Linked DNA regions of Homo sapiens. The protein of the gene in region 3 interacts with the protein of the main gene of each other region in a pairwise test. Each region holds a gene or a part of one and is shown on either strand. Other genes may lie near its edges. The genes, in order: RFPL3, EFHC1, SLAIN1, KIF9, AKAP9, ZNF76 and DMRTB1.

Region 1 (4,117 bases), on a different chromosome or scaffold from region 3:
CTTTCAGCATCAAAAAAGGAAACGTTCTGCATGCCCATATCCAGAAAAATCCCCACTCGCTGTAACTTGCGGTCTACTAAGAGGAAAGTCAGCGGCACCGTGCTGGCAGAGAGGCGGCTTCCATCCCTCAAACTCACAGTCCAGAATCCAAGCTCTGTGGTCAGCTGGATCTTCCCTTTGCAGTGAACAGATTCTCTGCAGACTCCCAGGTCCCATTCTGTGCTTGTTCCCACGTCCACCTCCCAGTAGTGGCGGCCACAGGTAAAGCGAGGGGAGCCCAGGATGCAAACGGACACGTCAAATCTCTCGGCAAGGTCTTGCCGATTCTGTGTGATGAGCCCACTTCGGACGCTCCTGAGGTCGTCAGAAATGAGGAGGAAGTTGTTGGCTGTGTCGGCATCCAAGGTCATATCCACTGTGAAAAGGAAAACAAGTTGCTCAGCAAGTGGACAGAAGCCAACCCCATGCCTCTCTTCTACTTCAAAGGCCCAAATATCTCCTGACTTTAGTTTCTTTAATTCTGTTTCTTCCTCCAAAATCAAAACTTTTCATGAGGAAACTTCCCTATTTCAAATTTTCATAGGTATGCTTTGTGGCAATACGTGACTCTTATTCACAGTAGCAATTCTTATTTTACTTTACGTCACGTGTTTGCTTCACTGAACTTTTCTTCATTTAGAGTGGAGGGTCTCTGAAGGCAGACACCATGCCCCCCTTTCTACCACCTTGATGTGTGAACAAATAAATGATAATTAAGACAATGCAAGTGGTCAATATTAAATATGTTTCTGCTTCCACATTTTATTGCTCCAATTCAGTATATAGAGCATGATTCCAGGCTTTTGTTTTCCATGTTTGTAAACAAATTAATTGTGCACAGTTCTGACAGCAGATAGGGTATCTCTGCAGCTGACAATGTGATGACAGAGATGCTGGTCCTGGACATTAGGAGGCTCTAAGGCCAGGTGGAGGAGGGGGACCTTTTAGATGAAAGAATGTTTTCTATCCTACATGGAAGGTGAGACCTTAAGCAAAACAATGGTAAATTTTGGAGCCAAGAGAAAGGTATTTGAAAGTTGTCTGTCATAACTGACTGATTGTAGAGAATAAGGGCAGAAAATACAAAGGTCAATAATTTAAGGCATTGGGTATGTGACTGACAGGTGAAGCCGCCAATTCTCATGGAGGAGGCAGTGTGATCTGGCCTAGAGAAAATTAATTGTCCAGAACATTCTGAAAAAAAAAAATCTACAAAATATATTATCCTTCAAGTCAAAAAACTGATATGATCACTAATATAGATTTTATAGATCACAGTAAGACTACCCTAGTCAAGACTAGGGATTGATTGCTATTTAATGGTGAATTAGGGAATGGACATGGACAAGGAAGGAGGAAGAGGGTTCCAAACATGACTTGGACAGGGTGAATCTCTGTCCTCCATAGTTCAGCAGAGAGACAGTCAGGTATGGGTAGATGGATGAGTAGAGATCATGGGTGTCAGGGCAGAAGCTACCAGTGTCAGGGACATTATAGGGGCCCACCACCATTTATAGGTGTAATTCTTTGCCCAGGCTGACCATAACCTTTTCATTTAAATGTCCCTTTTCCCCAGAGTTATGGAGAGTGATAGTATTTTCTGTAGCCAGGACCACTGTTGGAGCCCATGGCGCATGGATGAGGAGACCAATATCTGCAACTCTCCCCACTCACAGAAACAAACACCATAGGTGCTCCATTCCCAACTCTTCTCAACCCTGGGGTGAGGTTGTTTGGTACAATGGGTGCCAATATTCACTGTGCATTAGAAATACCAGGCCCATCTTAATGTCAGATTCATGGGAACCTTTGCTAGAGAGAAATTCAAATTCAGTTGCTCTATGTTTTTGCTACTCAGCAAAGTCCCCAAGCCAGCGGGATCAATCCTGAGACTTCCCAGTTCAGCATCTGCATTTTAACAAGATCCCCAGGTAATCTGAGCACACTAAGTTTAGAGAATCCCTTGTCTAACCCATGACATAGACATCGGGTTTTTGTTTGTTTTTGTTTTTGACATCACCAGGTGATTCTATGTGTTGTCAGGGCTGAGAATGTGATGATGAAGCATCTCAATTTTAGGTGCCAGACAGCAGCTAATCCCCATGTGGAATGAGGGGCCAACTGCACAGATGATTTTTCCTGGTCTGGTCTTGGGAAGGGGGCAGGGTATACAGATTCCTTACCTTGGAACTTCCGCATCCTTGGGTTCATCTGTAGAATCTTCTTCAGCTTGGGCTCCAGTTCCTTGATGTGGGAAACCAGCCTCTCTAGCTGCCGATTGGGCCTGATTTTGTTCCTCTGAGAGACCATGGAACAGCAACAGCAAAGCAGATCCTCCCCATGGGGCTCCTTCTGCAGCGAATTGATGCACTTGAGGCAGACGGTGCATCCACACTCCAGGGACATTGGTTTTTCCAGATAGTCTGAGCAGACGGGACAGCTGCTTGCTTCTTGGAAGAGTGCAGCCATGTCCACTGCCAGGGGAAAAGTACACAAGGGAAGAAAATTTCCTTGAGGTGAAAGCCTGTTAGTTGTGACAAGTGACAACCTTTTCATGCATAGAGGTATTGTGTTCCAGCTTTGTCACTCCGAGAACAAGACCATGAGTACAAACACTCAAGCACATCCCCCCACCCCCCGTCCTCAGAGATTTGAAGTTCTATTGGGAAAGTCACGAATCATCACTGTGCTCTGAGCTGAGGTGGAGGAAGGGTCCATTCTCCTGGTGACCCAGCAGCTGAGCCTGAGCCAGTGACGTGGCAGCACCCATGTGAGGAACAGCGAGCTGGGGTCATTTCACCACCTCCTAGGGGAACCCCAGCAAGAGACTGATTGATGAACATAAGAATTAGGAGCTGAGAGGCTGGGCACGATGGCTCATGCCTGTAATCCCAGCACTTCGGGAGGCCAAGGTGGGTGGATCATCTGAGGTCATCAAAAGTTCGAGACCAGCCTGATGGGTGAAACCCCATCTCTACTGAAAATACAAAAGAATTAGCCAGGCGTGGTGGCACACGCCTGTAATCCCAGATACTTGGGAGGCTTTGGCAGGAGAATCGCTTGAACCTGGGAGGCAGAAGTTGCACTGAGCCAAGATTGTGCCATTGCACTCCGGCCTGGGCAACAGAGTGAGACACCATCTCAAAAAAAAAAAAGGGGGCTGGATGCAGTAGCTCACATCTGTAATCCCAGCACTTTGCGAGGCCAAGGCAGGAAGATCCCTTGAGCCCAGGAATTTGAGACGAGTCTGGACAACACAGGAAGACCTCATCTCTACAAACAATACAAAAATTAGCAGTGAGCAGAGACCACGCCAGGTCACTCCAACCTGGACAACACAGTAAGACCCTGTCTCACCAAAAGAAAAGAAAAGAAAAAAAATTACATCCTTCTCCAGCCTTGGAAATGAATACCAAATTAACTGCCACCACTGGTGGGCAGGGGACAGGCTCGGAGGTTCCCTGAATGACAGAGAGTTGTTTTAGGAACCTCATGTCACACCCTTCTGAGACACTGTGGACCATGTCTGAGGGGTCCTACACTGGCACTGAGGGGGCCTGACCCCTCTTCATACACTGAGGTCAGGGGGCTCCCAGGTACACAACAGGATGCTGACCTCCTGCCGCTCGCCCACCCACAGGCCAGCCCAAGGCCACCCCCTTGGTCACTCTGTTCCCGTCCTCCTCTGAGGAGCTCCAAGCCAAAAGGCCACACTGCTGTGTCTCATGAGTGGCTTCTACCCGGGAGCTGTGACGGTGGCCTGGAAGGCAAACAGCACCCCTGTCACCCAGGGTACGGAAGTCACCAAGACCTCCAAACAGAGCAACAAGCACACAGCCAGAAGCGACCTGAGCCTGACACCCGACCAGTGGAGGTCCTGCAGCAGCTACAGCTGTAAGGTCACACACAAGAGAGCACTGTGGAGAAGACAGTGGCCCCTGAAGAATGTTCTTAGGTCCCTGACCCTCACCCCACCCATGGGGGCCTGGAGCTGCAGGATCCCAGAACAGAGATCCCCTCCCACCCCAAATCATCCAGCCCCTCTCCTTGTACCAGTAAACCCTTAATAAATATCCTC
Region 2 (3,500 bases), on a different chromosome or scaffold from region 3:
TAGTAGAGTTAAGTCCTTTAAGATGTATTCTCACCAAGGAACATATGCAATAAATAGTTTATACACATTGTGAGTATTTAAAGCAGATGTCAGCAAACTTTTTCTGTAAAGGGCAGTTAGCGTATATTTTGGCCATTGCAGTGGTTTTAGCCTGCGTAGTCTGCCACAACAAAATACCACAGATTGAGTGGTTTAAATAATAGAATTTATTTTCTCACAGTTCTGGAGGTTGGAGGTCCAAGATCAAGGTGCCAGCTGGTTTGAATTCTGGTGAGGGCTCTCTTCCTGGCTTGCATACAGCGGTCTTCTTGCTATGTCTTCATGTGGCCTTACCTTGGTGTGTACATGTGGGAGTTAGGGGAGGGAAGTAACTCTCTTTCTCTTCTTCTCTTCTAAGGCAACCAGTTCTATGGGATTAGACTTAAAGGTGGCATACCTCTATCCTTAAGATCTGGTTTAACCTTAATTACCTCCTAAGGATCCTGTCTCCAAATATAGTCACATTGAGGGTTAGGGGTTCAACATATGAATTTTGGGGATGAGGGGGACACAATTTAGTCTGTGTATCTCTGTCACAACTATTCAACTCTTCCCTTGTAATGGGAGAGCAGCTGTTAACAAAAAAGCGTAAATTATTTACATAATTATTTGTGGATTGAAAATTTAAATTTTTATAATTTCCATGTGTTATGAAACATTTTTTAAAATTTTTTAAACCATTTAAATATGTAAAACCCACTCTTAGCTTGCAGGTCATAAAAAAAACAGGTGGCAGGTTAGATTTGTCCCATGGACTATAGTTTGCAGTATCTGTAGTTTTAGAGTATCAAGATTTACAGGATAGAAGTGATGAGTGTTAAAATCTCCCTGTGTGGTTCTGTTTTCAGGAAGGTACTTGATATTTTTCAGATGACTATGACAAGCTAATAGTACACCATTTCTCCTTTCCTTGTATGTTATAGGTACTGAAATTTGATGCCTATTTCCAAGAAGATGTTCCTATGTCAACTGAGGAACAGTATAGGATCCGTCAGGTGAACATTTACTATTATCTAGAAGATGACAGCATGTCTGTCATAGAGCCTGTTGTAGAAAATTCTGGAATCCTTCAAGGCAAGTTAATAAAACGCCAGCGGCTAGCCAAGAATGACCGGGGTGACCATTACCATTGGAAAGACCTAAATCGAGGAATAAACATCACAATTTATGGCAAAACTTTCCGCGTTGTTGACTGTGACCAATTCACACAGGTATAGCATATATTTTTGAAAGTTGTGGGGTCTGAGGCATCATTCTAATTTATAGAAGGATACATTTCATTTATTAGGGTAAGGGGAGGACATTGGTAATCTGTCCTGCATGAATTATTATGAATGGCTAGGTATTTGCATGTGTGTATGTGCTAATATGTGCCAACACTAATAGTAACATAATTTTTTCAGAATGATATTAATACTTATTCACTCAAAATCAAACTCTCATCATAGCTGAATAATTTGGTAAGAAACCAGGTTAAAATGGCAGTTCAAACAGGGAGTAGGGGAATAGCATCCCTGCTGGGATGTAAGTATGGAAGAGGGATTAAACGTTTTATCTTAAGTGTGAGTTTACAAAAATAGCACTACTTCTATTAGCAGATATGAGCCTAAAATTTTTTGTGTAGCTCATATATTTTTGGTAAATGATACTTGCTATATTCTAGGAAAGCTTACCATCTAAAGAATTTCTGAAATGAAACCATTTTTAAATGAAAAAACCTCTTCTATATGTAAAAAGTCCTCTATTTCGTAAGTTTGGATTTTTTAATACAAAGGAAACTTTTATTAAAGTTACATGCATAGAGGATATAGGTGGCCTTTCTTTACTACAAAGTGTAGGAATTAGGAAGTCAATTCCAAATTTGTCTTAGTTAAAAAAATATTTCTAGCAGCAAAGATATAGTTTCTGAAGTATTTTATGTCCCTATTCCAGGATACCTAGTGCCATATGTGACTAATTTTTACCATGCACTGAGCTCCTATGAATCCATTATTGTTTTCATTTAGTAGTTTGTTTAACAGATATTTATTTGCATGCCTGCTTTGTTCCATGCACTGTTCTAGGTGCCAGATGTTTTCAGGAAGGTACTTGATATTTTTCAGATGACTATGACAAGCTAATAGTGCACCATTTCTCCTTTCCTTGCATGTTATAGGTACTTGCCCCTATAGAGGTTCCAATCTTGTTGGAGGAGATAAGCAATAGCAAATAAATAGATTGGTTATATGTCAGATGATGATAACAGCAATGGAGGAAAATAAAGCTGAGTAAAGGGAATGGAAGTTGAGGGGCTCTTTATAGAGGCGGATCAGAGAATGCCTCAGTGATAAGATGACATATGAATAGAGGCCTGAAGGAAGTAAAGAAAGGAGCCATGGCATCAGTGCCATTCCAAAGCAATAGAGAAAAATAGCTTCAAAAGTAGAGGTGCTAGACCATCTTTGAGATATTCTCCCGTTCCAACATATTTTTATCTCTTTGCTTTTTAGGTGTCTGAGGTCTTATATATCATAGGCAGTTTCACAATTGTACCAACAGTGAGAAATGATAAAATGTTATCTAAACATAAATGTATTAACAATTATTTTTACAGTTGTGTTTTCATAACAATTATTTTTACAGTTGTGTTTTTATGGGCAATTTGAACATTTGCAAGTTAATCACTGAGCGTTTGACCTAATCTATTTATAGTCGGTTCTCATTATTGACAGTAATTAGGACTATAAAGTCACCACAAACACTGAATTAGTGAATACTGAACCACTAGTCTTAGAGGAAATACAGGGTTAGGTTCCCACTAATCTCTGGCCACATTTTTGTCAACTGATCAATACATAAGTTTGATTCATGTATGTTTCTGTTTAAAGACACCTTATTTAATATATACGGTTGATTCATTAACATTAAACTCACACCCAACAGCACTATAACTCACGTCTGAACAAAGCTTATCTAAGACATGCATTTTCTCCATGAGGTGTGTTACAGCCTTCTTGTGCTTAGGAACACTAAATAGCACTTCATCACTAGGCACTGGGACCCTTTAAACAGCAAAATCACCAACAAAAAACACAAAAATGCAAAAAATCTGGCACCTTCATGTATATGTATATGTATGTGTATATGTATCACATTTTCTTTTTCCAGTTTACCATTGATGGGCATTCAGGTTGATTCCATGTCTTTGCTATTATGAATAGTGCTGCGATGAACATACTTGCGGGTATGTCTTTATGGCAGAATGATTTATATTCCTTTGGGTATATACCCAATAATGAGATTCCTAGGTCAAATGGTAGTTCTGTTTTCAGGTCTTTTAGGAATCACTACACTGCTTTCTACAATGGTTGAACTAATTTATACTCTCATCACCAGTGTATAAACATTTCTTTTTCTCCACAACCTTGACAGCACCTGTTATTTTTTTACTTTTTAATAATAGCCATTCTGACTGGTGTGAG
Region 3 (3,500 bases):
TTATGCATAGAGAAAAAGATGAATCCAAGAGAAGACCTAGAGATGCTTGAATGTGGCCTGGCTACCCATCCAATCACTAGTAAACTGCACCAAGGAGCTCCATCCATTAAGAGCTTTAGATCGGCTTCGGCACCTCCTTTGGGTATGAACAGACAACCAGTGACACCAAATATGTGAAATATTCCTTTTACATGAAACACTGAGACTAAAAGTAGAGGGAGTAAAGAGAACCAAAGAGAAAAACAATGCAGGGAACAGATGAAAATGTCAAGACGAATATAATTTATATCATCTAAAAGAAAATGTTACATTCACACACACACACAAGCACACACATACACATGGATATTGAAAAAAACAGTTTATTCATGCTTGGGAAATGAAACTATCATAGCAAAAACAAAAGAGTCAGTAAATGAGTTTGGAATATCAAGTTGAAGAAGTCTCCTGAAAACAAAATAAAAACAGATTAGCAATGGGATAAGACAGATAAGAAAATCAAGTGATTAAGCCAGATGGAATGACCTACATCTGTCTGTTACAAGTTCTTAAAAAAAAGAAAGAAAGAAAAGAAAGAAACTGGAAAGTTATTTTGAAGAAAAAAAAAAGAGCAAGAAAATTTCCAGAGTGGAAGTCAGGCCATGCAATTCTAGAGTGAAAGTGTGCACGAATGTCCAGTATATTAAATAAAATAACCCATACCAAGGTACAACATGACATTTTAGAATACTAGGAATAAAGGAAGCAAAAGAAAAAGTCAAAAAGGATTAGATATCCAAACACAGTGCACTCAACAGCTAGAACATAACAGAAGCTAGAACAAAATGGAACAGTGCCTTCAAACATGAGGGAAAGGTTAACTTAGACTTTTATAGCCAGTCCAACTATGAATCTTATGTAAGGGCAGAACAATGACATTTTCAAATACGCAGGATCTCAAAGTGTGCCTCTCCTGCAGGTCTCCTTTCTCAGAAAGCTATTGAAGGCTGTGCCCCACCTAAGAGAATAAAAAAAATACAAACGAAAAGGATTTAAGAAGAAGGGAATCCACATTGCCAAGAAACTGAAAGAGTTCCCATGGCAACAGCAGTATGCATCCAGCTTAGGGGGCAAACAGTAAAAACTAGAGCAATGAGATTAAGAGTTTCAGAGGGGATAGCACTACAATATAAATTTTAAAAAAGCAGATTTAACAGACTGCCAAATGTGTATGACCTTAATGAGGGATTTTATGGCTCCTTTAGCGTGTTTGGGGAAATAATTTCTGATAGGTAATTAAAGAAAGTGAAGAGGAGAGAAGAAGTGCCATTACTAACTCTTGGAGGAACAAAGGGGTCAGAGAAAATACATGTTTAACATGCAATTAACAGGACTTAGCTAGTAAATTATAATCATAATGCAGACATTAAATATAAAAGAAAAACCATAAAAACCATTATGAGAAGGGAAAAGAGATATGGTAGTCAAGGGTGAGAGGAAGAGAGCTAAGTTTTCTTCTTTCATAATAAGTCCATAGATGTCTAAGATCATAAAAGTATAAAGACTGTTTAGGAAAAAGAAACAGCTAGTAGAGTATAAAGTGATGCCTATGTGAAGGACTCAGCAGGAGGAGGGAGTAGAGGACTGCTTCCTGTAATAAGCCTAACAAGGGGAGTTTTGAAAACTACTAACATGTTATTATATTATTTTGATAAAACTGTTGAGGTGCTATACAAATGTATGGCATTAAGACAGAAGTGATCATTTTCAGAGTCAGTCTCCTGACAGTGAGCAGGATAGCTTTGAGCCTAGTGTTTCTATGACTTGGCCTAGAGCTGGATTTAAAGAAAGAAAAAGCCCACAATAACCCTGAATGTTTCCAATGAAGTATGACAATTGTCTAGAAAAAAAAAGTCTCAGTTATTCTCAAAATATTTGGTTCTAAAGTCATCTTTTTGCAGATAATACAAAAAACTAGTTATAGAGATCATGTGGCTAAAAACTCCTTGAGTACAACACAGCTCCAAAATTAGATAGGCAAGGTTTTTAAAAAAAAAAAAAAATCTGTATTTCTCCTATATAGCTCTAACCCTCCAAAAAGTCATTTTAAAAATCACTTTATTCAATGTCATTAGAATGCAAGTAACATTTACAATGTCCTATCTGGCCATCATTAGTACATCATACATTCTAGTGACTTATAAACATTTTTTTCAACTTCAGTAGTTTCATTAATGGTATATTGGATTCTGGCAAGAGCATCTGAAAAGTCTTAATCTAAATTTTCAGAATTCTTCAAATTATATTTGAAATATACATTTCAAACTACTATTTGGAATGTCACTCTAATTTTCTTTAACTTTTCTTAAATTGCTTCCAAACCACACACACCAGAAACTACTATCCTTCTCATAGAACCCCTTCTTTTCCATACACATCACATTCTATGCTGGGAGAACAAAAATAATATAAAGCCCATGATAACCCTGAATGTTTCCAATGAAGTATGACAACTGTCTGGAAAACAAAGTCTCAGTTATTCTCAAAATATTTGGTTCTAAAGTCATCTTTTTGCAGATAATACAAAAAACAAATGGTACAGTCACATATGTATACACACAAGTATATATTTTATGTGTGTATATATACATATAAAACCTCTGTATATACAGTTTCTATGTATATATACATATAAAACCTCTGTATATACAGTTTCTATGTATATATACATATAAAACCTCTGTATATACAGTTTCTATGTATATATACATATAAAACCTCTGTATATACAGTTTCTATGTATATATACATATAAAACCTCTGTATATACAGTTTCTATGTATATATACATATAAAACCTCTGTATATACAGTTTCTATGTATATATACATATAAAACCTCTGTATATACAGTTTCTATGTATATATACATATAAAACCTCTGTATATACAGTTTCTATGTATATATACATATAAAACCTCTGTATATACAGTTTCTATGTATATATACATATAAAACCTCTGTATATACAGTTTCTATGTATATATACATATAAAACCTCTGTATATACAGTTTCTATGTATATATACATATAAAACCTCTGTATATACAGTTTCTATGTATATATACATATAAAACCTCTGTATATACAGTTTCTATGTATATATACATATAAAACCTCTGTATATACAGTTTCTATGTATATATACATATAAAACCTCTGTATATACAGTTTCTATGTATATATACATATAAAACCTCTGTATATACAGTTTCTATGTATATATACATATAAAACCTCTGTATATACAGTTTCTATGTATATATACATATAAAACCTCTGTATATACAGTTTCTATGTATATATACATATAAAACCTCTGTATATACAGTTTCTATGTATATATACATATAAAACCTATGTATATATTTTCTATATATATACATATAAAACATATGTACATATATTTTCTATGTATATATACATATAAAACATATGTATATATATTTTCTATGTATAT
Region 4 (3,500 bases), on a different chromosome or scaffold from region 3:
AATCCCAGCACTTTGGGAGGCCGTGGCAGGTAGATCACCTGAGGTCAGGAGTTCCAGACCAGCCTGGCCAACATGGCAAAACCCCGTCTCTACTAAAAATACAAAAATTAGCCAGGCATGGTGGCACGTGCCTGTAATCCCAGCTACTAGCAGGGCTGAGGCAGGACGATCGCTTGAACCTGGGAGGCGGAGGTTGCAGTGAGCCAAGATTGTGCCACTGTACTCCAGCCTGGGCAACAGAGTGGGACTCTGTCTCAAAAAAAAAAAAAAAAAAAGAAAAGAAAGAAAGAAAGACTTGGTCCACTCACACATTAAATGCTCTGTGCTTCTGTGTTCGCTGAAAACCATGTCCAGCAGGACACATTTGATAGGGCTGCATGTGAGCTCTTTTCTGACCGCTAGGACCTGCGAGGCTTGGGCAGTTTGCCCTTGAATTTTTCCTTTGAAGAATGTCTCAATGCTGCCCAGAGTAGGCCCATAATTGTTTGCTGAATGAAAATATCTAACACTCTTACACTGTCCTAAGCCTTCAGAAGCATTCTCAGGGTGAGGATATAGGGACGGATATATCTTTCCACTTCTCTTGATAAGTATTTCTCCAGCTGTTTTGATAAGCTAAACAGTAATGAACTCAAGATATTCTTACTGCACCCCATGGGCGATTATACAATGACAGATCAATCATTAGAAAGCTTTATGAATGTGAACAAATGTCAATTCTTCTGTGTCAGATACGAGGGTAAAGGTAAACTTATTAATTTATTAAAGGTAAAATTATTAAAAGACAATTAACGATGGGATTTTATTAATTTCTTCATTAGCAGTGTGTGAGGGGGTGGTTTGGATTTGATGGGCTCTAGAGTCCATTGGATCCTGTCCAATTCTGTCTTGGTCCTTCAAAGGTTGCTTGGAAATACGGTCACACTATAGCAAGGTGGGACAGAGAGGCCCAGTCAGTTGAAGGCAAACACATCGCACTTACTCTTTTGTCATCTCCGTATCTGATCATTTCATGAGCAAAGTCATCGGTGGGTTTGACACGGACAAATGCATGAACTTTTTTCCTAGTACCCATTCTAGCTAAAAAGAAGGGAACAATGAAATTTTGAGTAGTCATTATCAAATAACAAGTAGAGGAGAGGGGTCATTCATTAAGAAGATCAGAAAAGAGTGACGAGCAGTCCATTTTTCCCTCTCTCCCTGAAAGCCAGTTTTCCTTTTCACCCCTCAGCATTTCAGTGTTCTACCCACAAGACACTGCTCAACAAATACACGCACTTTCTGCTTCACAGACTGCTTTGCCATTTTCCACCAATGACCCCAGAGAGACTGAAATACAAAGTGAAAAGAATGCTTCCTTTAGTGGCCTAATCTTAGATGTCATTTCTAGAAATGTTCTGCAACTAAGATGATGAGTCCACTTATGCTTTCCTTCATTTATTATATTTTCTTCTAAAATACTTACTATGAAATACATTAAAACTAATTTTCTTTTCATTAACTTATCTTGCTTCAGATACAGCATCCTCTTCTCCAGTAGACTAACTAGATCAGAAATAGATGACCCAGACGTATATTTGGTCCATAATAAATATTCTTTCTTCTCTTACTATATTGAGAAAAAATATCACAGACAGTCCCCTACCTCCTCTTGCTCTCCTAAAACCTAACTATATTCTCATCATTTTCTTTCAGTGTGTGTGTGTGTGTGTATGCGTGTGCATATACATATATATAGTAGTATAAATAAAGGAAGACATAGGACATATATACATACATTTTTTTTTTTTGAGACAGAGTCTCACCCTGTCACCCAGGTTGGAGTGCAGTGGTGCTATCATGGCTCAATGCAGCCTTGACCTCCCAGGCTTAAGTGATCCTCCTGCCTCAGCCTCCCCAGTAGCTGGGACTACAGGTGCGTACCACTGTGCCCGGCTAGTTTTCTTACATTTTTTTTGCAGAGATGGCGTCTTACTATGTTGCCTAGGCTGGTCTTGAACTCCTAGCCTCAAGTGATCCTCCTATCTTAGACTTCCAAAGTGCTGGGATTACAGGCATACCCAGCCGATGTTCAATATTTTTTAAAAAATTAACATTTATTTCATTGTTTTATTTTTGGAGACAAGGGTTTCTTTATGTTGTCTAGGCTAGCCTTTAACTTCTGAGCTCAAGTGATTCTCCCATCTCAACCTTCCAAGTAGCTAAGACTACAGGCGCATGGCTTGGCTTTAAAAAAAAACTAACTTTTGGCTGGGTGCAATGGCTCATACCATAATCTTAGCACTTTGGGAGGCCGAGGTGGGCAGATCCCTTGAGGCCAGGAGTTTGAAACCAGCCTGGGCAACATGGCGAAAACCCATCTCTATAAAGAATACAAAAATTAGCCAGGCAGCCAGGTGCGGTGGCTCAGGCCTGTAATCCCAGCACTTTGGGAGGCCGAGGCAGGTGGATTACCTGAGGTCAGGAGTTCAAGACCAGCCTGGCCAACATGGTGAAATGCCATCTCTACTAAAAATACAAAAATTAGCTAGTTGTGGTGGCAGACGCCTGTAATCCCAGCTACTCAGAAGGCTGAGGCAGGAGAATCGCTTGAATCTGGGACGTGGAGGGTGCAGTGAGCTGAGATCGCGCCATTGCACTTCAGCCTGGGCGACAGAGAGGGACTCCATCTCCAAAAAATAAATAAATGAATAAATAAATAAAATAAATAAATTACCAAGCATGGTGGTGCATGCCTATAGTCCCAGCTACTCAGGAGGCTGAGGTGGGAGAATCACTTGAGCCTGGGGAAGCTGAGGCTGCAGTTAGCTTTGATCATACCACTGCACTCCAGCCTAGGTGACAGAGTGAGACCATATCTCAAAAAAAAAAAAAAAAAAAAAACTAACGTGGGCCAAGTGCGTTGGCTCTTGCCTGTAATCCCAGCACTTTGGGAGGCTGAGGATGGCAGATTACCTGAGGTTAGGAGTTCAAGACCAGCCTGGCCAACATGACGAAACCCTGTTTCCACTAAAAAAAAATACAAACATTAGCTGGGTGTAGTGGCAAGCGCCTGTAATCTCAGCTACTCAGGAGGCTGAGACAGGAGAATTGCTTGAATCTGGAGGGTGGAGGTTGCAGTGAGCCAATGTCATGCCACTGCACTCCAGCCTGGGTGACAGAGCAAGCTCAGTCTCAAAAAAAAAAAAAAATCAAAAAATCTAAGTAACTTTTAAGATGTTAACCATAAAAACCCCTCATGTATAACAGGGACTACTTTTAATTAGATTATCTTGCTTTTTTAAAAAGTACATTAAATAATGGTAATATTTTATTTTATTTTATTTTTTTTTTTTGAGGCAGAGTCTCGCTCTATCACCCAGGTTGGAGCGCAGTGGCGCCATCTCAGCTCACTGCAAGCTCCGCCCCCCAGGTTCACGCCATTCTCCTGCCTCAGCCTCCCGAGTAGCTGGGACTACAGGCGCCCGCCACCAAGCCCCGCTAATTTTTCTGTATTTTTA
Region 5 (3,156 bases), on a different chromosome or scaffold from region 3:
CAGCTCACTTTCTAGTGGGGAAGACTAATATGCACAGAACTTAGAATATAATAAGTAAATGGGAGGTCACAGGAGTTAGCTAGTAATTTTGATTAGAGGGATCTAGAGAGGCTTCATGAGAGCGGTGTAGAAGTTGTTATTGACATACTTCACTCTGCCCCACTTTTTCTTATCCAAGATTATGTTTATCATATTTTGACCCTCCTAAGATGGAGCCTTGGAACTGATTCAAAGTAAATCAAAACTGGTGCTCCAAAAGCTCCTTGGGCCAAGATGGGGAAGAAGGTCGTAACTTGCTGCACCTGGGTCATGAAGCTAACACTCCCATTCCTTTTGAAACCAACGTTTTTTTGTCCCTGATCAAAGGGACAAGAGCTTCACCCACCTTGCAGCATTCCCAGCACATTCTTATTGCCAATTTAAGGGTCTTTTTGTTCTCTTCTTATCTCATCTGCCCTTTATTCTCTGTTCTTTTCTCTTTTCATTACTTCTCACCCTTTCTTTGCCTATCTGCTTTTCCCATCTACTTTTGCCTTCCATCTCCTTATACCCCATTTATCCCTCAAGCTGGAACCTGATGCTGGCAATATAAGAGACCTCTAATGCCTCTTGGGAAGGGGATGAGGGGATTTTGAGTCCCTATTCTTCCGTTCCAGTTGATTTTGTCACAACAGGCATTGACATAGTTTAACTGGGCAATTGTGAAATTTGACATTTGTTCTATGTTCATATTTAAACGTGTGATGTGATTTTTGTAGGAAATGTATATACTGTTTATAGATGGGCTGTGAAATTTTATCTTGGAATCTTTTTTAGAATGAAATTTTTGGTTCGACGGTGGCATCGAGTCACAGGTTCTGTTTCCATCAATATTAACAGAGATGGCTTTGGACTGAATCAAGGTGAAGTCAAAATAGCATATTTTCTTATGTTTATGACTCTCTAAATCAGAGGTCCCCCACCCCCAGACTATGGACCATACTTGTCTGTGGCCTGTTAGGAACCAGGCCGCACAGCAGCAGGTGAGCAGCGGGCATTACTGCCCGAGCTCCACCTCCTGTCAGATCAGCCGTGGCATTAGATTCTCATAGGAGCACAAATCCTATTGTGAACTGCACATGTGAGGAATCTAGGTTGTGTGCTCCTTATGAGAATCTAACTAATGCCTGATTATCTGGGGTGGAACAGTTTCATCCAGAAACCATTCTGGCCCCTTTGGGTCCATGGAAAAATTGTCTTCCATGAAATGTGTCCCTGGTGCCAAAAAGGTTGGGGACTGCTGCTCTGAATTACTGCATGTGTAATACTTACCAAGTAATGAATTCTGGAAGCAATGTTTTCCAAAGACAAAGCCCTTATAACTGCCAAAACTAGGTAACTTCACTGTTTTAAAGAGGGTAATAATAACTGATTTTCATGGAGAACTTAGTCTGCACCTGGCCATGCTCTTTTCATGTATTCTCCCAATCCTATGATATAAGTACAGTTTTACTACTCTCACTTTTAGATGAAAAATCGAGGCATGGAAAACACAAGTCATTTGCCCCAGAATGGCCAGTAGGGAAGTGATGGAACCAGGACCAAACACTGGCAGTCTGGGTCCAGAGCCCACACTCTTCATAACTGCATTTAAGGCACGGTTCAAGACAGGATTGCTGTTAGTCATATGGAAGAATTAGGAAGTTTTCATAATTTAACAATATTCAAACAAGTTTCTGAGTTTACCAACAGGTTGTATAATAATGGTAACAGCTAAAATTCCTTCTGTCTACACCTAGAAGTGGAAACAAACTAGGGCTTGAACATTTCTGGCAATAAAGATGAGGTCCGAATCTGGGGAGCACACAGAGGACACAGCATCCCTGTGCTGTGTATTCATAGTAAACCACCTTTACATACTCTACCAGGAGCTGAGCATCCTACAGAGGGGAAATAGATTTGGTACCCTACACAAAGTATTTTGAAATATCATTACACTGAAACAGCTGAAATTTGTACCATAATAAGTTGTGTTTTATTAAAAGTTAGCAAATCTTGGTTTCAAGTCAGTAGATTGGAATGGTTACATTGGTCTAATATTTTTTATCCACATCATTTCCCACAAGCCACACCCACTCAGACACCCCTCACCTCTCATCTACTTAGAGCTAAGGTCTTTAAAGAAGAAAATATGCCAATTAAATAATTTTCTTTGAGACATAATTCCAGATATCAGAAATACTCATATTCAAAAGTAAACAAAATAACATTTGAAAGCCGAATTTTTGTTTGTACTGTTTTCTCCTTTATCAAGAATAATAGAAAATGACTATAAATAGGAGATTGTATAATATAGTATAATAGTCTTTTGAGCAGTTACCTATTTTGTAGAAATTTTTTAAGGTCTTGGGATTTTATTTTTCTTTACAAGGAATATTTTGGGTTACTTTAGGTGCAGAAAAGACTGACTCATTTTATCATTCTTCTGGTGGGCTGGAGTTATATGGAGAACCAAGACATACTACGTATCGCTCAAGATCAGATCTGGACTATATTAGGTCCCCTTTACCATTTCAGAATAGGTAAGAATATGAGAAAACCTGCCTGGAATTGTTAAATGTATTAATATTTAACAGAGATAAATGGACATTTTTAGGGCTTTGACTTCTTTGCATTGAGATAGACATCTTTGTTATATATAATTTACATAATATGACCAAGTGCGGTGGCTCACACCTATAATCCCAGCACTTTGGGAGGCTGAGGCGGGCAGATCATGAGGTCAGGAGTTCAAGACCAGCTAGTTGGAGACTAGCCTGGCCAACATGGTGAAACCCTGTCTCTACTAAAAATACAAAAAATTAGCCAGGCGTGGTGGCAGGCGCCTGTGGTCCCAGCTACTTGGGAGGCTGAGGCAGGAGAATGGTGTGAACCCGGGAGGCGGAGCTGGCAGTGAGCTGAGATTGTGCCACTGCACTCTGGCCTGGGCAACGGAGCGAGACTCTGTCTCAAAAAAAAATACAAAAAAATTAGCCAGGCATGGTGGTGGGTGCCTGTAATCCCAGCTACTCAGGAGGCTGAGGCAGGAGAATCGCTTGAACTCAGGAGGTGGAGGTTGCAGTGAGCCGAGGTCACGCCACTGCACTCTAGCCTGGGCAACAAAGCAAGATTTGGTCT
Region 6 (2,875 bases), on a different chromosome or scaffold from region 3:
AACAAAATGGGTCCAAGGTTGCAAAGAGAGGCCACACTAGAAGAATTCCACTGACTACTTCTATTTATCACCACTTTGCCTCTGGGCCCTGTTGTATCCAGCTCAGGGTCGCCACCTGATTGTGTCCTAACAACTCTAGAAAGCACAGATGTACTTTCTAGCAAGGGTACGGACAAGGGTCAGGTTATATAGCTAGCTAGTACACTAGTAGGACCAGACCCCAGGCTTTCAGACCCCATACCATGTTCTGGCTGCTATATGAACATGCCTCTCTTGAGAAGGACATCCCATATCCTGTTCAGATGAACAGGACCTGTCAGCCTCCAAGTAAAGAGAGAAACTACTAACTGTGCTCTAGAAGCCCCAGAGACTGAGCTGGAAGCACAGGAGGAGGAGAGGCTGTGCTGCAAGATGTGGTCTCCTCAGCCTCAGCCTCTGAAGTCTATAAAACTTAAACAAGAAGCTGGGTGGCAGTGGGGCTGTCAGAACTTCAGGGCTCCCAGAGTCCCCAGAGAGAGTGGAGAGTGCCAGCTAGTATGGCACCTCTGCCCTCCAGGGCCTGTACCTGCTGGGCACCATCCTGAGTGATCAGAGCCACCTGGGGGGCCCCATCTTCTTCAGTCACCATCGCCACCTGGGCTGGGATGTCATCTCTCTCTTCCTTCACCTCCGAAAGGTAAGCTATCCGGGGTCGTTTGGGTGGCGGACTCTCCTCGGCTGCAGAGGCGGCTGGGAGAGGAGAGCCAAGGCTGACATCTGCTACCAGATGCCATGGGGAGGCCTGGCTTGTCCCCACTCTCACCCTCTGCCCACTCCCCTTACCCTCAAGTTGCTGCTGCTCATAGAGGGCCTGCTCGCTCTCCTCCGTGGCCTCCAGCTCGCCGTGGGCACTGCGCTTGTGCATGGCCAAGGTGGAGGTCTGCCGGTAGGTCTTGCCGCAGGTGCTGCAGGTGTAGGGCTTGCAGTGTGTGTGCACCACGTGGTGCTTATACAAGCTCGAGTACTCGGTGAAGCGTTTCCCGCAGCCTGGCACCGTGCAAACGTATGGCTTCTCCCCTGGGGACACTGGGCTGTGAGGGGGGTGGGAACTGGGGCTGGCAAGGGGGAAACTAAGGGGACAGGGGTGAGGGACAGGGTTGGTGAAGGGAGAGCCAGAGGGAGGGAGAGGGACTGAGACCTGAGACTCTGAATGGACAGGGTTGGGGAAGATGGCCAGTGGAACACAGAGAGGACACAGGTGTTGAACCACTGAATCCAGAGACAAGGCGGAAAGGAAACGGGGGACAGGGCAAGGCTGGGGCTAGTGAAGGGGCTGGTAGGGGGCACTGGGGCTTATAAGGTTGAGGGTGGGAGGTTGAGAATGGTGAACAGCAGAGGCAAGAGGCAAGGATGACTGAAGTATCAGTTGTGATGGGAAAGAGGGGACACACATGCTGAGACACAACACAGAAAGCTGGATGAGGGGCATAACACTGGGGAGGGTGAGGATACACAGGAGTCATGGACGGCGGATAAGGTGAGGAGTTGAAGGTGACAGTTCACTCTGCTTCTTCCCCATCATTCCTGACCCTGGCCTCTTTTCAAGAGTTCAGTCAGAGTTGGAGAACTCAGGGTGGGTGTAGAGGGGTGGTAGGGAGCTGAGGGACCCCAGAGAGGACTGGCAATACCTTTCAGATTGGACCTAACTGGAAATTGAGGAATTACTCACTGCAAGCAGAGTTGTTCTGGGGATACCCTACCCCCAGACCAGCCTGGAATGGCTGGCACAGAAGGGTTCTGGGCTGGGAGTTGGGAATGTGTCTTAGATGGGAAGCCTACAGTAGAGGGGTTGGGGCCTGAGTGAGGGTAGTCCTCGCATGCCAGCTAGCCCACCTGTGTGGATGCGCACGTGATTCTTATAGTTGGTGGCGCTGGTGAAGCCGCGGCCACAGTGGGGCTCCGGGCAGGTGTAGGGCCTCTCGCCTGTGTGGGTGCGCACATGTACCTTGCGGATGTTAGATGTGGTGAAGGAGCGGCCACAGCCCTCAAAAGGGCACTGGAACGGGCGTTCACCTATGCAAATGGTGGGATGTGAGGAGGGGTGTGGGAAAGAGGGCCATGCTGGAGCAAGCTGGGGATGGCACTGGGCTCCAGGTCTAAGTCTGAAAGGCAAGCTGAATTCCTTTTGCCCAGGGAATGGGGTTGGAGTGGGCAGGGCCCAGCATACCAGTGTGGGTACGGACATGCTTCTGCAGGTCTCCTGAGGTCTTGAAGGCCTTGCTGCACAGCTCCTCTGGGCACTTGTATGGTTTCTCACCAGTGTGGGTACGAACGTGGCTCTTCAGTCCATAGCCTGTCCATATGTGGCAGGCAGGGGGTGAGATGAGCACCCAGTGGGGTCTCATCCTCCACCGTCCACCTCATGCACAGGCTCTCCACCTCCTTTGGCTCAAGAAGCCCATGTCTGCCTCTATCCCACCCCTGCCCTGGGCAGGGGCTGGAAAAGCCCACTCTGCCCTGCTTCCCTCTCCAGGAGCAGTTGGAGCCATACCAGAACATGAGCATGAAAAGAAACTTAGAGAACTCATGGCTAAAGGTACTAGTTTCACAGAGGGGAAAATAAGCCCAGAGAGATGCAATGGCCCACCCAATAATCCACAGCTGGTTGGCATCAGAGCTGACACAAGAGGCTGGGTCTCTCCACCAACCCTCCAGGCTCCTTCTGCTGGCCTGAACCATGCTGCCTTGCACTCCCGTAACAAGGTTTCCTCCAGAGAGAGCACCCTGCAAGTCAGAGTACTCTGACGGTAGTTTCTCCAGGAAAGCAGCCTGGTGTTGGGTTCCCTTCAGAGAGGTCCCAAACAGAACGAGAACCCTCCACCCTCAACTGGAAGCA
Region 7 (3,995 bases), on a different chromosome or scaffold from region 3:
GGCCGGTGGATCACCTGAGATCGGGAGTTCAAGACCAGCCTGGCCAACATGGCGAAAACCCCGTCTCTACTAAAAATACAAAAATTAGCTGGGCATGGTGGCGGGCGCCTGTAATCCAAGCTACTCAGGAGGCTGAGGCAGGAGAATCGCTTGAACCTGGGAGGCGGAGGTTGCAGTGAGCCAAGATCCTGCCACTGCACTACAGCCTGGGTGACAAAGCAAGACTCTGTCTCAAAAAAAAAAAAAAAAACAAAAAAAAACAATTAATGCCCTCGGGTAAACTATGACGTTTGTGCTAACTTTTCAGATGTCCCAAGATTTGGGTTGTTTTACAAGGATAACGAAGTTCATGATGAGGTTAAGCAATCACTGAAGCTAGTGCTAGAAATTTTTTTTAATTTAATTTTTTAGAAAGAGGGGTCTTGCAGAATTTTTTATTTAATTTTTTAGAAAGAGGAGTCTCGCTATGTTGCTCAGGTTGGTCTCCAACTACTGGGCTCAAGTGATCCTCACGAGTAGCTAGGGCTACAGGCACAGGACACTATGCCAGGCTTAGTGCTACAATATTCTGTCTATTTTACTTTAAAATATTCTAAGTATGCTCACTTTGGAAGGCATCAACATCCAGAAATGCATTCCTACATCAAGACTCTCAAGAAACGGGAATTACTGTAAGGGCATACCCTTGAGCAACCATCACACTGCACTGAACTCTTGAGAATATTCTGGAATATCCTGGAAGCATCTCTGCAGGGCAGAGAAGTGAACTGCCACAGAAGGAGCAGCTTTGGGGAGAAGAAATACAGTTTGCCTCTTACAGTATTTTTCTACACCGAGAGCTACATTCCTCCCGAGTTTTAAATTTGTGGACCGTTGAATATCACTCCGCCTTTCATAAAGTTACAAATACCTTCCGTCGGTGGCGGGAACAGAGTTTGGAAAATTACATGCCTAAGACTTCAGATAAGCTAAATGACATACATGCAATAGCATCCCATGAAGAATTTATTCAACCCAATCCATTGCATCTAATTACCCAAAGCACAGAAACTCTCCAAACTGTGCACCCCCCAAAAGGAGGGAAAATGCAAGGTTCCTGCTGCAGTTCCCGGGACACACTGCGAGCCGCTTTGTTACAAGTGTATCCAATGTCCCCAGAACGAGGGACTTGTGGGGCGCGGCTCATCCCAGCGCCACTTGCTCTGCAGCTCCCAGAGGTGGTGGTTGTGTTACGAAGGCTGACCCTGCCAATGGCCGACAAAATGGTGCGCACCCCCAAGTGCTCGAGATGCAGGAACCATGGCTTCCTGGTGCCCGTCAAGGGACACGCGGGCAAATGCCGCTGGAAGCAGTGCCTCTGCGAGAAGTGCTACCTGATCTCCGAGCGCCAGAAGATCATGGCCGCGCAGAAGGTGCTCAAGACGCAGGCCGCCGAGGAGGAGCAGGAGGCGGCCCTGTGTGCGCAGGGGCCCAAGCAGGCCTCCGGGGCTGCGGCCGCCGCCCCCGCCCCCGTCCCCGTCCCGGCCGCGAGCCTCCGCCCGCTGTCCCCGGGGACTCCCTCCGGAGACGCCGACCCGGGACCCGAGGGCCGCGCGGCCGCTTGCTTCTTCGAGCAGCCCCCGCGGGGCCGGAACCCCGGCCCGAGAGCCCTCCAGCCGGTTCTGGGCGGCCGCAGCCACGTGGAGCCGAGCGAGCGAGCCGCCGTGGCGATGCCCAGCCTTGCGGGACCCCCTTTTGGGGCGGAGGCCGCAGGCAGTGGCTACCCTGGCCCCCTAGACCTGCGCAGGCCGATGCGGACCGTGCCCGGCCCACTGTTCACCGACTTTGGTAAGTCGTGGCCTTGGTCCCGCGGTCGACTCCCGGAGCTGGCAGCCCAGGCCAGCCCGGATGGGGAGCTGGCATAGGGGTTCGGGGTGGAGAGAAGTTTTTCCACGGGTAACGGACCTTCCGCTTTGAGAAACCCTTCTTCGAACAGGGATTTGGATTGGGTAACTTTTCGCAAAAAGGAAACGAGAAACAGAAAGGAATGGGCGGTTCAGAGGGCTTTTAACATTTAGCTGTAGTTTGTGCCATTCCGGCATGCAAGAACAAAATGGCGTCCAGTCGACTTAGCAGTGCTTCCTCCTCCGGGGGAGGCTTCGAGGAGCCGAGTCCTACTGCTCTTGCGCACCTCTTCCCGCCATTTCCTTGGGCTGGAGGCTCCTCCTCCAGAATAACAGAATTTTCCTGCCGGCACGTTAGCGCAAGGACGCCTGCGCACTCTTCCCTCCCGGTTCGCGGTCGGGAGGCTCCTCCCCTCAGCTCCGCCCTGGCCCAGTGCGCCTGCGCACCTCTTCCCTCCGTTTCCCCACGTGCAGGTGAGGGGAGCCTGCTTCTTTACTCCACACACGAGAACAGTTGGTCAGTAAAGATGTTGCCTTTCTTTTCTCCCTTCACCTTGTACATAAATTACATTGTTCCCTGTGCCTTGGAGCTTTTGGTATTGAAGTAGTTTCAAGTCACATGTACATTTGAAGCTTTAGAAGCCCCGGGGTTTGGTGCGGACGCGTTTTCCTGGTGTCTCCCCCGTGGTGGTGTGGTGGGACGGGCTCAGGCCGAGGCGGGGGCCCGGGTCACGCTGGACAAGCTCCTGCCCTCTGTGTGCCAGGGCACTGGTCCGGAGGCTCCCGCAGGCTCGTCCCGCCCCCCTGACTTTCCAGGAAAATCTAGGTCCCCAGGGAACGTCCCATCTGACAGGGTCACAGGCCTGAAACTGCAGATCTAGGAGAAGCCACCTTTCTTTTTTCCATCTCAACAGACAAGCAGGGCTGAGCCGAACCATGAGCCAGGCATTCGTGATGGAGGACGCGGGTCACATTTCTTGCCCTCAAGGACCTTGTCCTTGTGGGAGGGACAGGGTTGATCAAAGAGTCACACAAATCAGTGTCCAGGGCTTGAGCCATGGCCGGGTTCACTGTGACCCGGAGGAGGAGGAGGAGCTCGGCACTGAGGCCTCAGAGAGGCAGAGTGCGGGCTGACGGTGTGTGGGGCAGCGGGGAGGTCTGGAGGCGGCCCCGGCCCACAGCGGGCTTGATGGCCGTGCTGAGGACTTTCCAAGAGCAGTGGGGCTGGCTGGAGGATGGAGATGCAGTGAGGGCCCAGCGGAAGGAAGTGCGGGGTGGGCTTTCTGTGCTTGGACGGCAGCGCTGATGACCCCGCCGCCCTGGGCCGCCCTGCGGATGCTTTTCCCAGCGGTGTCTAACACTTCCCTCCTTGCTTGCGTTCTTTAGTGCGCCCTCTGAACATCAACCCGGACCGTGCACTGGGCCCTGAGTACCCTGGTGGCTCCAGCATGCACCCCTACTGCCCGTTCCCGCTGGGCTACCTGGACGCCCCTCCTGGCGTCCCCCTGCAGCAGGGCTTCCGGCATGTGTCCCGCAGCCAGTACCAAGGCGGAGGCTTGGTGAGTCCCACCCCTCACTTCTTGCCAGCTTCCTCCACCCAGTCTGCCCCTGCTGCCTTGATGGATCCTCAGTCCCAGGAAGCCAGCTGTCATAAACTGTGCCCACGCCATGCCAGCCCCCGAGTGCTGGTGGAGGACTAGGCACTGCCCAGGCACAGTGTGTGTGTCTCTGGGAGCACACGTGTGGACCAGTCTGCACCACTCGGCTTGGGCTATGGCCTGTGCTTTTCAGGGCAGTGGGCTGAAAGGCTCTGAGCGTTCAGGATGACCCCTTCCTTGACTGATGCTGATGCTAGAAGGGCCCTTCATTTTGCTGGACTCCAGAAAGGGCATATCACCTTCCTGGGACCACAAAATTTAGGGCAGAGCCAGGACCAGAGGTAGGCTCCCTGCCCACAGGTATAGCACACTTGAGACTGCAGAGGGCTTTCAGGAGGAGGTGGCATTTGAGCGGAGTCATGAAAAATACGGAAACCTTCCCCCAAACACTTGACACCTTAGGAAATACCTGTTGAAAGAATGAAATTTAATCCTTTTATAAGATTAATAAAGG

What was found.
Region 1: the proteins of SLAIN1 (region 3) and RFPL3 interact in binary tests that used the Homo sapiens proteins (3 or more experiments, as listed by UniProt).
Region 2: the proteins of SLAIN1 (region 3) and EFHC1 interact in binary tests that used the Homo sapiens proteins (3 or more experiments, as listed by UniProt).
Region 4: the proteins of SLAIN1 (region 3) and KIF9 interact in binary tests that used the Homo sapiens proteins (3 or more experiments, as listed by UniProt).
Region 5: the proteins of SLAIN1 (region 3) and AKAP9 interact in a two-hybrid assay, tested with the Homo sapiens proteins (one large-scale study listed by BioGRID).
Region 6: the proteins of SLAIN1 (region 3) and ZNF76 interact in binary tests that used the Homo sapiens proteins (3 or more experiments, as listed by UniProt).
Region 7: the proteins of SLAIN1 (region 3) and DMRTB1 interact in a two-hybrid assay, tested with the Homo sapiens proteins (2 studies listed by BioGRID).

Annotation. Positions count from the first base shown.
Region 1 is NC_000022.11:32,356,550-32,360,666, reverse strand, and holds the start of RFPL3 (ret finger protein-like 3), read right to left. Parts: upstream 2,801-4,117; 5' UTR 2,596-2,800; coding exon 2,223-2,595; intron 762-2,222; exon of another isoform or gene 416-761; coding exon 1-415.
Region 2 is NC_000006.12:52,437,342-52,440,841, forward strand, and holds part of EFHC1 (EF-hand domain-containing protein 1), read left to right. Parts: intron 1-962; coding exon 963-1,250; intron 1,251-3,500. UniProt on the Homo sapiens protein: Microtubule inner protein (MIP) part of the dynein-decorated doublet microtubules (DMTs) in cilia axoneme, which is required for motile cilia beating.
Region 3 is NC_000013.11:77,704,187-77,707,686, reverse strand, and holds part of SLAIN1 (SLAIN motif-containing protein 1), read right to left. Parts: intron 1-3,500. UniProt on the Homo sapiens protein: Microtubule plus-end tracking protein that might be involved in the regulation of cytoplasmic microtubule dynamics, microtubule organization and microtubule elongation.
Region 4 is NC_000003.12:47,276,300-47,279,799, forward strand, and holds part of KIF9 (kinesin-like protein KIF9), read right to left. Parts: intron 1,081-3,500; coding exon of another isoform or gene 1,076-1,080; coding exon 983-1,075; intron 1-982. UniProt on the Homo sapiens protein: Essential for normal male fertility and for progressive motility of spermatozoa.
Region 5 is NC_000007.14:92,104,862-92,108,017, forward strand, and holds part of AKAP9 (A-kinase anchor protein 9), read left to right. Parts: intron 1-816; coding exon 817-902; intron 903-2,431; coding exon 2,432-2,561; intron 2,562-3,156. UniProt on the Homo sapiens protein: Scaffolding protein that assembles several protein kinases and phosphatases on the centrosome and Golgi apparatus. Required to maintain the integrity of the Golgi apparatus. Required for microtubule nucleation at the cis-side of the Golgi apparatus.
Region 6 is NC_000006.12:35,290,735-35,293,609, reverse strand, and holds part of ZNF76 (zinc finger protein 76), read right to left. Parts: intron 2,333-2,875; coding exon 2,207-2,332; intron 2,053-2,206; coding exon 1,873-2,052; intron 1,071-1,872; coding exon of another isoform or gene 1,057-1,070; coding exon 823-1,056; intron 730-822; coding exon 566-729; intron 1-565. UniProt on the Homo sapiens protein: May be involved in transcriptional regulation.
Region 7 is NC_000001.11:53,458,204-53,462,198, forward strand, and holds the start of DMRTB1 (doublesex- and mab-3-related transcription factor B1), read left to right. Parts: upstream 1-1,195; 5' UTR 1,196-1,250; coding exon 1,251-1,827; intron 1,828-3,269; coding exon 3,270-3,442; intron 3,443-3,995.